Regions from separate parts of the Homo sapiens genome. Here region 1 is linked to region 2. The links come from fine-mapping of genetic effects on gene expression. A gene starts in region 2. The other region holds a variant in brackets. All regions are shown on one strand. Distances are between the middles of the regions. Region 1 has its middle 23 kb from the start of IER5L. Region 2 holds the start of CRAT (carnitine O-acetyltransferase).

Region 1 (5,513 bases), 45 kb before region 2:
CACAAGGTCAGGAGATCGAGACCATCCTGGCTAACACGGTGAAACCCCGTCTCTACTAAAAATACAAAAAAATTAGCCGGGTGTGGTGGCGGACGCCTGTAGTCCCAGCTACTCGGGAGGCTGAGGCAGGAGAATGGTGTGAACCCGGGAGGCGAAGCTTGCAGTGAGCCGAGATCGCGCCACTGCACTCCAGCCTGGGTGACAGAGCGAGACTCTGTCTCAAAAACAAACAAAAAAAAGACATTCTGGAGGACCAGAGAGAGGGCAACATGACTGAAGTACGGGAGTGGGCGAGTGGGGCGGGGGCACAGTGGCTCATCACCTCGTGGGGCCTTCTGTGCACAGTCAGGAGCCACCCTTCAAGTAGGGATCTGATGGGAGTGACCTTCAAGCACCTCAGGGTAGAATCACCTTTAAGCACCTCAGGGTAGAGCCCAGGGACAGTGGCAGAGTGGAGTCAGGAGAGCAGAGAGGAGATGCTGCTGGCCAGCGCTCCTGGGAGAGCTGACCGTGCTCCCTGGCTGCGGGCAGATTTGGGTTACAATTTGGAGGGAGACCCAATAGGACCTGCTCATGGGTTGGATTTGAGAGGTAGAGGAAAAGAAAGGAATTCAGGATAACACCTGCACCAGGTATGGTAGCTCATACCTGTAATAATCCCAGCACTTTGAGAGGCCGAGGCACGAGGATCACTTGTGCTCAGGAGTTTGAGACCAGCCTGGGCAACATAGGGAAACCCTGTCTCTACAGAAAAAAAGTTTCTTAAATTTAGCTGGGCATAATGGTGCACACCTGTAGTCCCAGGTGTGGACCCAGGAGAGTAAACTCTCAAGCAATAGAGGGTAAACGAGGCCAAGGCTGCAGTGAGCTATGATTGTGCCACTGCACCAGCCTGGACGACAGAGCAAGACTCTGTCTCAAAAAATAAAAATAAAAAAGATAACACCTGGGCCAGGCACGGTGACTCACTCCTATAATCTCAGGACTTTGGGATGCTGAGGCAGGTGGATCACTTGAGGCCAGGAGTTGGAGACCAGCCTGGCCAACATGGTGAAACCCGGTCTCTACTAAAAATACAAAATTAGCCAGGCGTGGTGGTGCAGGCCTATAATCCTAGCTACTAGGGAGGCTGAGCCAGGAGAATCACTTGAACCTGGGAGGCAAAGTTTGCAGTGAGCTGAAATCGAGCCACTGCACTCCAGCCTGGGTGACAGAGCAAGATCCTGTCTCAAAAAATAAAAAGGATGACGCCTGGATTTGGGGCCTGATGGCTGTCCGCAGAGACAGACTGCCTTGGGGAGAACAAGGAGCCACGTGGCCATAGCCAATCTTTCCCTTGCCCAGCTCCGGGTACCCCACCATGCTGGCCTTTGTAGGACCTGGTGTCAGACAAACCTGGGCACCACCCTGAACCCACTTGGACAAGCTGGAGGCCCTGGGACGCCACTAAGATCTGAGCCCCACCACCAAAAGCCCTTGACTGGGAATGTGATGCCACCTTCTCGGCTCACTGTGGGGACTCCACGAGGTGACACATAAAGCACAATCTGCACACACCAAGAGGCACGCTACCAGCCAGAGAGTCATTGCTGTCATGCGTCTTCGTCATCTTTGTGCAAATCGGCCCTGCCTCCAAAAAGAAACTGGGCCCTTGGAAGAGGTGCCTCTCAGAGAAGCCCAGGGTCTGGGGCCAGTCCTGGAGAGATGGGTGCAGGAGCAGGAGGAAGAGGAGGAGGAGGGGGAGGGGGTAGAGTGAAGTGGAGTGGAGGAGGGCTCTCAGGCCACCACAGTGGGGACAGGCAGCACACGGCAGCCCATGCCACCCGAGCCCTCAGGTCAGGCCCCGTGGAGAGGCTGCAGGAGCACGAGCTTTGGCGGGAAAGAGACCCCAGACCCTTCTGTGAAATGAGGACATCAGCGCCCATTGTGAGGATGAGGCAAGAGAAGCTTCGAAGCACTTAGCTCAGGGCCAGACACATAGGCCGCATGCAGGAGCCACAAGCTCCAGGCTCGCTGCGGGAACCCCCAGACATCAGGGGGCAGACAGCTGCTGGGGCCTGGAGCAGCAGTGGCAACTGAGACATGGGGACCAGGAATTTGCATGGAGTAGGGCAGGAGCCACTCCTGAAGGAATGGCCAGGCCACCACAGTCCGGGCAGAAGCCAGGCCTGGGGCCAGTAGCCAGCAAGGGAACGACCGCCCCAGCTCCAGACACCCAGCACACCTCCCAGCCTTGCTGCCGGAGCCCTCATCCTGCCTTCAAGGAAGGCTCTCCACCCTGTCCACGACATTCCCACAGCTCCCCACATGCCCCGTGTCCTCCTTAAACCTCCATGAGGGACGGAACCGCATCTGCCTCCTCCATGGTCCTTGGGGTCTCCTTGGAGCCTGGCAGAGCAAGTGCTCAGTAAACGTTCGTGGGACAGATTCACAGCCATTATTGGGCTCAGTGGGTAGAAATGTCCACACTGAGCTGGGCACAGTGGCTCATGCCTGTAATCCCAGCACTTTGGGAGGCCAAGGTGGGTGGATCACCTGAGGTTAGGAGTTCGAGACCAGCCTGGCCAACATGGTGAAACCCCGTCTCTACTAAAAATACAAAATTAGCCGGGTGTGGTGGTGCACACCAGTAATCTTGGCTACTTGGGAGGCTAAAGCAGGAGAATCGCTTGAATCCAGGAGTTGGGGGTTGCAGTGAGCAGAGATGGCACCACTGCACTCCAGCCTGGATGACACAGCAAGACTCTTGTCTCAAAGAAAAAAAAAAGAAAGAAAGAAAGAAAGAAATGTCCACGCTGGAGCCTGATGGCCCAGGTTTGAAACCCACTTACCACCAAGGAATTCCCCCATGGCTCGGTTGCCACATGCCCACCTCGCAGGGTGGCCTGCGGAGATTCAATGAGACGGTGCCAGCAAAGCCCTGGGCTGTGTCCGTTCGGTGTCTGGTACATCCACCCTGTAAGGCCATGTTTACTTACCTTGTTTATACGTAAGGAAACTGAGGCTCAGAGGGGTTCAGTCATGGCTCAAGGTCACACAGAGGGAAATGCAAGA[G/C]CCACTCCAGAGCCCACGCACACCTTGGCCACCACGCTCCCCACCCCTTGCAGAGGGCAGGAGCTGGCTCTAGAGGGTGTGCGCAGTCCGTCAGCCCAGCAAGGGCCAGGCCCAATCTCACCAAGCAGAGGTGGGGAGCAGGAGCAGGCTGTTCCGTCCGCAGCCCGCCCACCTGCCTGTCCTGCCCGGGGCTGGGTCCAGTTACCTGGAGATGAGGTGCTGCACTCGGCCTGCCTTTGCAGTGTCCCTTTTGAAAAGCCCCAACTTTGTCTCATGTAAATAACAAGGGTCAAGAAATCTGTCCAGGCTCAGACTGGGAGATCTCACTACAGGCCAGCAAAGGCCCGGCCTCGGGGCCAGAACTGGGGATACAGCCAGCTGCCCTGCCAGGAGAGGAAGCCTCCCAGAGCCCCAGCCACTGTGGAGTACGTCTCATCGCCGCAGCTCTGAGCCCCATCCTCACAGGTCCGTCTACTCCTGGGTGTTGTCCCAGGTATCCCTTGATGTCACCTGCTCAGGGGAGGATGGTGGATGAAGCTGGACCCATCAGGGGCTTCGCCTCTTCACTGGGATTCAGGAAAATACTCCCAGCAGCATCACAAGCACTGAGAGAAATTGAACCGTTCGTCCCTTGGTTCTTAACCACCAAACCCCCCATCCAGGGCCCAGGCAGGAGAAAGAGCACCTCAACTTTGGGACTGAATTCTGGATCCAACTCACATGTGCTGGGGTCCTGAGAACAGAAGCTGGGTCCCAGAGGTCACCAGGAAGGCTGCAGATGCCCGCCAGGGAACTGCTGGCCACAACTCTCCCCAGTCCAAAGGCCCCCTGAGGAATCAGGATCTAGGCTGCCTCCTCTCCCTGGGTCCAGCTCACATGGACTCTCAAACACTTTTCCCCAATACCTCTCACTCCCTGAATCCCCCAGCCCCGACTGCCCACTCCCTCTCAGGGGGTCTCTGGGCCAAAGCACCTACCAAGAACTCACCTCCCCTTCCTTTATCCCAACAGATGTGAGCAAGGCCCCTCTCCTTCCTCTCCCTCCTGACTAGAAGGACAAGCCCCCTCCTCTCTGCCCAAGATGCACCATCCTCCGGCGCTTGTTAGCGGGGAGATCTTTTTATTCAGTTTCCTTTCTTTTTTTTTCTTATTACAAAAGTAGTATGTGGATATGGTAGAAAGATTTAAAAATCAAATACGAAAAACATAAAGCAAGGTTAAAACTGACCCGCCACTACTTTTTCTTTTGTGGTTCAGTAATGTTAGGGTTTTTTTTTTTTTTTTTTTTTTTTTGAGACGGAGTCTTGCTTTGTTGCCCAGACTGGAGTGCCGTAGTGTAATCTCGGCTCACCGCAACCTCCCCCTCCCGGATTCAACCGATTCTCCTGCCTCAGCCTTCCGAGTAGCTGGGATTACAGGCGTGTGCCACCACACCCGGCTGATTTTTTGTATTTTAGTAGAGACGGGGTTTCACCATGTTGGCCAGGATGGTCTCAATCTCCTGACCTCGTGATCCGCCTGCCTCAGCCTCCCAAAGTGCTGGGATTACAGGCGAGCCACCATGCCCGGCCATGTTGGCATTTTCATAACTATCTTTGGAAGCAGGAAAAGCATTAAGAATTTTCCAAAAACCCTCATATCCCCACCACCCAGAGATAAGCTCATCACTACCTGGGCCTGTGTTCATGTAGATGGACAGACAGACGGACGGATCAAGAATGCAGATTTCTGCTTTTTTACAAAAAAGCATTGTCCTTCACCTGCAGTCTTTGCAGCTGCCTTCCCCACGAATAACAGATTATCCGCATCTTTCTGGACAAATAAATGGATAATCGCGTCATCTGACAGCCCATAGGATGACTGCTCCCTCCAGCCCCCTAACAATCCCCAACTGCTGAACATATAGAGTGTTTCCCAGGTTCTGCTGGAATAAGTCCAAGAGGGAAAATCCTCCAGGAGGGACGGTGCTGCCTGTCTTGTTCACCGCAGCGCCCCAGCACTTGTCCCCAGACTGGAACAGAGAGGGCTCTGACAGTGTTTGCTGAGTGAATGAAAGCAAGCCATCCTCCCGGCTCAACCCTGACCTGGGCCTCTCTGGTCCTCTCCTCAGCTCCCTCCCTCCGCCCTCCGCCTGCAGTGGCACTCAGGTACCCCAGGGGCCCCCCATGCCCACCTGCCTCCTTCTTCCTCCCCACTGTGCCAACCTCACCCTCCTTTCTCTCCAGCCCACTGCTCCTCTGCTTGGCTCCACAGCACTCAGAACTGCCCTCTCACAGGCCCCATACCCACCTCCGGTGCTGGCTGCCTGGCACCAGGGCAACAGTGGCCACTCAGTCTCCCTGCCCATTCCACTCACCTGCCCCAGGCGGGGCACCAGCTTCCTTTCTCCACGGATTCTCCAGGGCTGACCTGCCCCCTCCTGTGTCTGTATCATGCTCTGCACGAGGGCCCCTGCCACT
Region 2 (5,000 bases):
TAGCTGCGATTACAGACGTGTGCCACCACACCCAGCTAATTTTTGTATTTTGAATACAGACGGGGTTTTGCCATGTTGGCCATGGCTGGTCTCGAACTCCTGACCTCAAGTGATCCGCCTGTGTCGGCCTCCCAAAGTGCTGGGATTACAGGTGTGAGCCACTGTGCCCGGAGTCATCACCAGAACTTCTAAGGCTAGCTTGTTCAACCCACAGCCCAGGACAGCTTTGAATGTAGCCGGACACAAATTTGTAAACTTTCTTAAAACATAGGCCAGGCACGGTGGCTCATGCCTGTAATCCCAGCACTTTGGAAGGCCGAGGCAGGAGGATCACGAGGTCAGGAGTTCGAGACCAGCCTGGCCAATATGGTGAAACCCTGTCCCTATTAAAAATACAAAAATTAGCCAGGCATGGTGGCGCACCTGTAGTCCCAGCTACTCAGGAGGCTGAGGCAGGAGAATCGCTTGAACCCGGGAGGCAGAGGGTGCAGTCAGCCGAGACCATGCCACTGCACTTCAGCCTGGGGGACAGAGTGAGACACTGTCTCAAAAAAAAGAAACACAAAACCATTATGAGATTTTTTTTTTTGCGACTTTTTTTTTAGCTCATCAGCCATCGTTAGTGTTAGTGTATTTTATGTGTGACCCAAGACAATTCTGCTTCCAATGTGGCTTAGAGAAGCCAAAAGAGTGGACACCCCGGTTTTTTTTTTGGGGGGTGACGGAGTTTCACTCTTGTTGTCCAGGCTGGAGTGCAATGCCGCGATCTCAGCTCACCGCAACCTCTGCTTCCCAGGTTCAAGCGATTCTCCTGCCTCATCCTCCCTAGTAGTTGGGATTACGGGCGTGTGTCACCACGCCCGGCTAATTTTGTATTTTTAGAAGAGACGGAGTTTCTCCATGTTGGTCAGGCTGGTCTCGAACTCCCGACCTCAGGTGATCAGCCCGCCTCGGCCTCCCAAAGTGCTGGGATTACGGGCATGAGCCACCGCGCCTGGCCTGGACATCCTTGTTCTAAGGGCACACACCCAGAGGTTTTGTACAAAATAAATGTCTGGTTTTGAATGTCCTAAGAAACGGAACCCAGCTCTTTGTTCACCTCTTTTGTGGGGCATGGAGGGGATGCCTTTTCTGATTTTCAACATTTCTCCCTCCTGAGACCTTCCCAGGGACCCCAACATTGGAGACAGGATAGCAAGAATATCAAATGCTTTCAAAACATTAGCTGTGTTTGGTCGGCCAACCTATTTGCCTCTGTCGGGAATGTAAAAGTTATCTATGGCCAGTCCTTCTTAGTTCAAGGTAGGTCGGCAAACAGCCTTCTCCTTCTGCACAAAAAGGGTCTCTAAGATCCTTCCGTAGCACCTCCATCCCAGTTATTTAAGATGAACTAAAAAGAGGCTACAAGGTAAATAAGAGTTACCGAAGGAGATGCCGGAGAGACTAACCTCCTTGCACAACCAGCCTTTTAAAATTAGGGATTTAGACACCACGGGCAGTTTCCCTCAATAAATTCTCAGGCACTGGAACCAGAGAGTAGGAGGATGAGGGGTGAGCAGGACGCGGAGGCCGAAACTGGAGGCGAGGCGGGCGCAGGCCCACGGAGCACCACCCCATCCCCTAAGCAGCGACTAATAAAGACGGCAGCCTCCGGAATCACTTTCGCCCCCCTCCCTGGCAGCTTCCCCACCGAGTCAGCAGCTTACTTAAGCACGCGCTGCCCAGAGATGCAAAAGGCCCCCTTATGACCACGGCGCTGCCCACCCAGCATTCGGGCAGCCTGGACTCCCACAAAACCCAGAGTTGCGCCCCAATCACCACCCCTTTGCAGCCCCTGGTTCCCTCCCCAGCGGCGCCCCACCACCCACCTCTCCCCTAAGGCCATTCAACTCAGTCCCTCCTCGGGGCCCCTCAGCTTTTGCCCCTCCAGTTCCTCCGTGTCATGACTCTCGCCCTCCTGAGCCTCCCACACCTGGCACCGCCCCCACCCTACCCGACCCCGGCCCGGCCTGGCCCCGCCGGCCTTACCTGGCGGCGGCTGCCGCTCGCCCTCAGCCATCTTGCTCCGGCCAGGAGCCGACCCGGATGCTTGCAGTCCCCTCTCGCCTTTCACTCTTGCACCCACCCTTCCTCTCCCCGGCTCCACCAAAGGCTCCGAGCTTCCTGAAGACAAGTGAGCGCCGGCCGGCTATAACCGAAAACCGAGAGTTAAAGTCACCACAGCGAAGACGGCCGCCATGTCGGTGCGGGGCGCTCAGGGAGCAAGCCTATTAACGGCCGGCGCGCGGCGGACGCGCGGAACCGGGCGACGGCCATGTCAGTGCGGGGCGCGCGGGGCGCATGCGCGCCAACGGCCGCCAAGCGCTAGGACCGCTCACGGCCGCCCGAACGTCGGGCGCCGCGACTGCCACGATTGTGCGGGGCGTCAAGTTTGGGTTGTGCTCAGCCATGTTTTTCCGGGACAGTCTCCTGTCCCGGAGTACCACCTGTCATCTTTGTGGGTGGTACTGACCCTAACCCAAGGAATATTAGAGGACATTCCCCGGTCAACATGGTTGTGTTTTCCTATCACTCTAAGAGTTAGGCTCAAGGACACCAGACGGAGTTGGAAAGGTGCACACCACTACCTCCAACAGCTTAGAAGACATGTGGGGACAGGGGAGAGACAGCTGGACGGTGACCTCCTCCTTCCTCCTCCACAGGTCTCAATGACTCGCCCTCGGCCCTGCCCCTCTGTCCCCGCCCGCCGTGGTCCCGCCCCCGACTCGCAGCCAGCCTACTGCGACCCGCTACCGGGCGACGCCCCGCCCCTCCGTCCCCGCCCCTCCTGTCCCTCCTCAAGGAGACTCCGCCCCATCGATGCCCCGTCCCCGCCCCACAGCCAACCTCCCGGGCACCGTTGCCCGCCCGGGGCCCGCTACCGGCCCAGGCCCCGCCTCGCGAGTCCTCCTCCCCGGGTGCCTTCCCGCAGCCCGCTCGGCCCAGAGGGTGGGCGCGGGGCTGCCTCTACCGGCTGGCGGCTGTAACTCAGCGACCTTGGCCCGAAGGCTCTAGCAAGGACCCACCGACCCCAGCCGCGGCGGCGGCGGCGCGGACTTTGCCCGGTGTGTGGGGCGGAGCGGACTGCGTGTCCGCGGACGGGCAGCGAAGATGTTAGCCTTCGCTGCCAGGACCGTGGTGAGTGCGGCGGATCCCGGGCCTGAGGGCCCTGGACGGCCTGGGCGGGCCGTGCGGTTGCGTCCGGGAACGGAGACCGCGTCCTGCGGCCGCTGTTCGACCCGGCCTCCAGCTGATGGGGTGGGGTCAGGCGGGCGTCCCAGGTTTGGCAGAGCAGGAGATTGGGGCGCAAGGTCAGAAGCGGGATTAAACCCACGTCCTGGAGCATTCAGTTCCAACGACCCAGGAAAGACAAGGGGGACCCCGGCTTCAGTTAGCACCCCCACCCTTAGACCCAGAGACAGGCCGGTAGGGGAGAGAGACCAGGAGCATCCAGACCCTAGCTCACTCTCCCAGTTATTCTCCGATTGACACACCCGTCGCACGCTTAGGCCAGAGCCACTCCTCCGACCCTGTCCAGTTGGTCACACTCCTTTGGTTTATCAGACGGTCCCTGGGGAATTGTGTGTGGCCAGAGAAACACGCGGAGGCATCAAGCTAGAAAGGCCTCAGAACTGGCAGGTGGCAGCCCCATGGTCTCCCTCCCCTCCAGCCCCCTTCCCCACCCTGGCTGTATCCTTCCCTCCAGCCCCCTTCCCCACCCTGGCTATATCCTCCCCTCTAGCCCCCTTCCCCACCCTGGCTATATCTACCCCTCAGTCCTCCCCGGTGAGCAGCCCGGATGCTAGCCTAATTTCAGTCCCTTCCGTCCCTGATCCAAGCATATGTTGCTGGTGTCTCACTCTGTCTCAGACACACACTACGGGGCCAGAGGGCGGAGGGTGCATCCAGGCTCAGGCCTAGAGGCTCTTTTAGGTGTTGCAACACCCTGAGCCTCCACCGCACCCTTGTCACTGTCTCCCAAGCTGCATCCATCCCACAAACAGCCTCTAGATCATCCTCCAGGACCATCCGACTGGACTGGTTACCTTCCTGCAGGGAAACTGAGGCAAGGAGGGACTTGCCCAGAGTCCCCTGGACCTGCTCATTCAAATCCAGCCCAATCCCAGTGTCCTTTGGTTTATTTTTCATACCAAAAGTCCTCCGCTCTTGGACCCTAGCTGAATGAGCCACAGCTCAGGAAAAAATGAGTGTTCGTAGAGGGATGGCTCAGATGGGTCCCAGGAGTCCTGGAGAGAAACAGGAAATAGGCAGGGCTTCTGGCTGTCCCATCCACTGATGGCCTTTTCCTGGTGTCTGCTCCCTTGCACCAACCCTAATTTCAGGACCGATCCCAGGGCTGTGGTGTAACCTCAGCGGCCAGGCAGTCTCTGTCCTCCAGCCAAGTTTTCCCTCATCAAAACGATCTTCGCAGATTCTGACAGGTGGATTTTTTATTACCTTTTGTCCTGACTCCCTGGCACTGAGCCCATGCAGAGAAGAAAGGAAAGAACTTTCCAGGTTCCCTTCTACTGGAATGCCCCCCCACTAGCCCTCTCACCTGCTCCCCATTCCTCTACTTCTGGGAGCTCGGGAGGGTGGAGCAGCTTCTAGAGTCCAGGAGCTTCCCCTGCCACTGCCACAACCCCCGATTCCACCACAGCCATCGCCACTGCCACCTGCCTCCCGCTGAATCTTGGCTCTTGTCTTCTCTTTCCAGCCCAGGCAAGTGGCTGCCTCTGGCTAGGTTCTGCTCACTCACTTTGTAGCACAGTTAGGCTTAGAGATCCAGCCAAGGCAGACAGACAGGGCCCAGAACCTCAGTCCTGCCATGGAGGAGGACGGGCAGCAGAGAGAGAAGGTATGGAACAGAGCTCCTGCCACTCGCCTGCCCACTGCAAGAGCAGCCTCGGGCCCTCCTGTCTCTGCCCACTCCAGGGCCTCCTGGACTTTCTCTTTCTCTC

What was found. PIP is the estimated chance that this variant, and not a neighbour inherited with it, causes the effect. A credible set is the group of variants that fine-mapping cannot tell apart.
Region 1: its variant is the best candidate, but not a certain one, in a credible set for the expression of CRAT in esophagus muscle (GTEx, PIP 0.50).

What each region holds. Positions count from the first base shown.
Region 1 is chr9:129,152,977-129,158,489 of GRCh38, reverse strand. No RefSeq gene overlaps it. Among named protein-coding and RNA genes, the nearest start is that of IER5L, 23 kb to the left of the region's middle. The variant G/C (reference allele first, on the strand shown) is at 3,055.
Region 2 is chr9:129,108,660-129,113,659 of GRCh38, reverse strand. It overlaps CRAT (carnitine O-acetyltransferase), which reads left to right and starts at 2,867. Exons shown (of 14, transcript NM_000755.5): 1 at 2,867-3,177. The coding sequence starts at 3,151. It overlaps PTPA (protein phosphatase 2 phosphatase activator), which reads right to left and starts at 2,245. Exons shown (of 10, transcript NM_178000.3): 1 at 2,029-2,245. The coding sequence starts at 2,059. RefSeq lists silencers at 1,932-1,981, 2,672-3,111 and enhancers at 1,509-2,049, 1,982-2,261.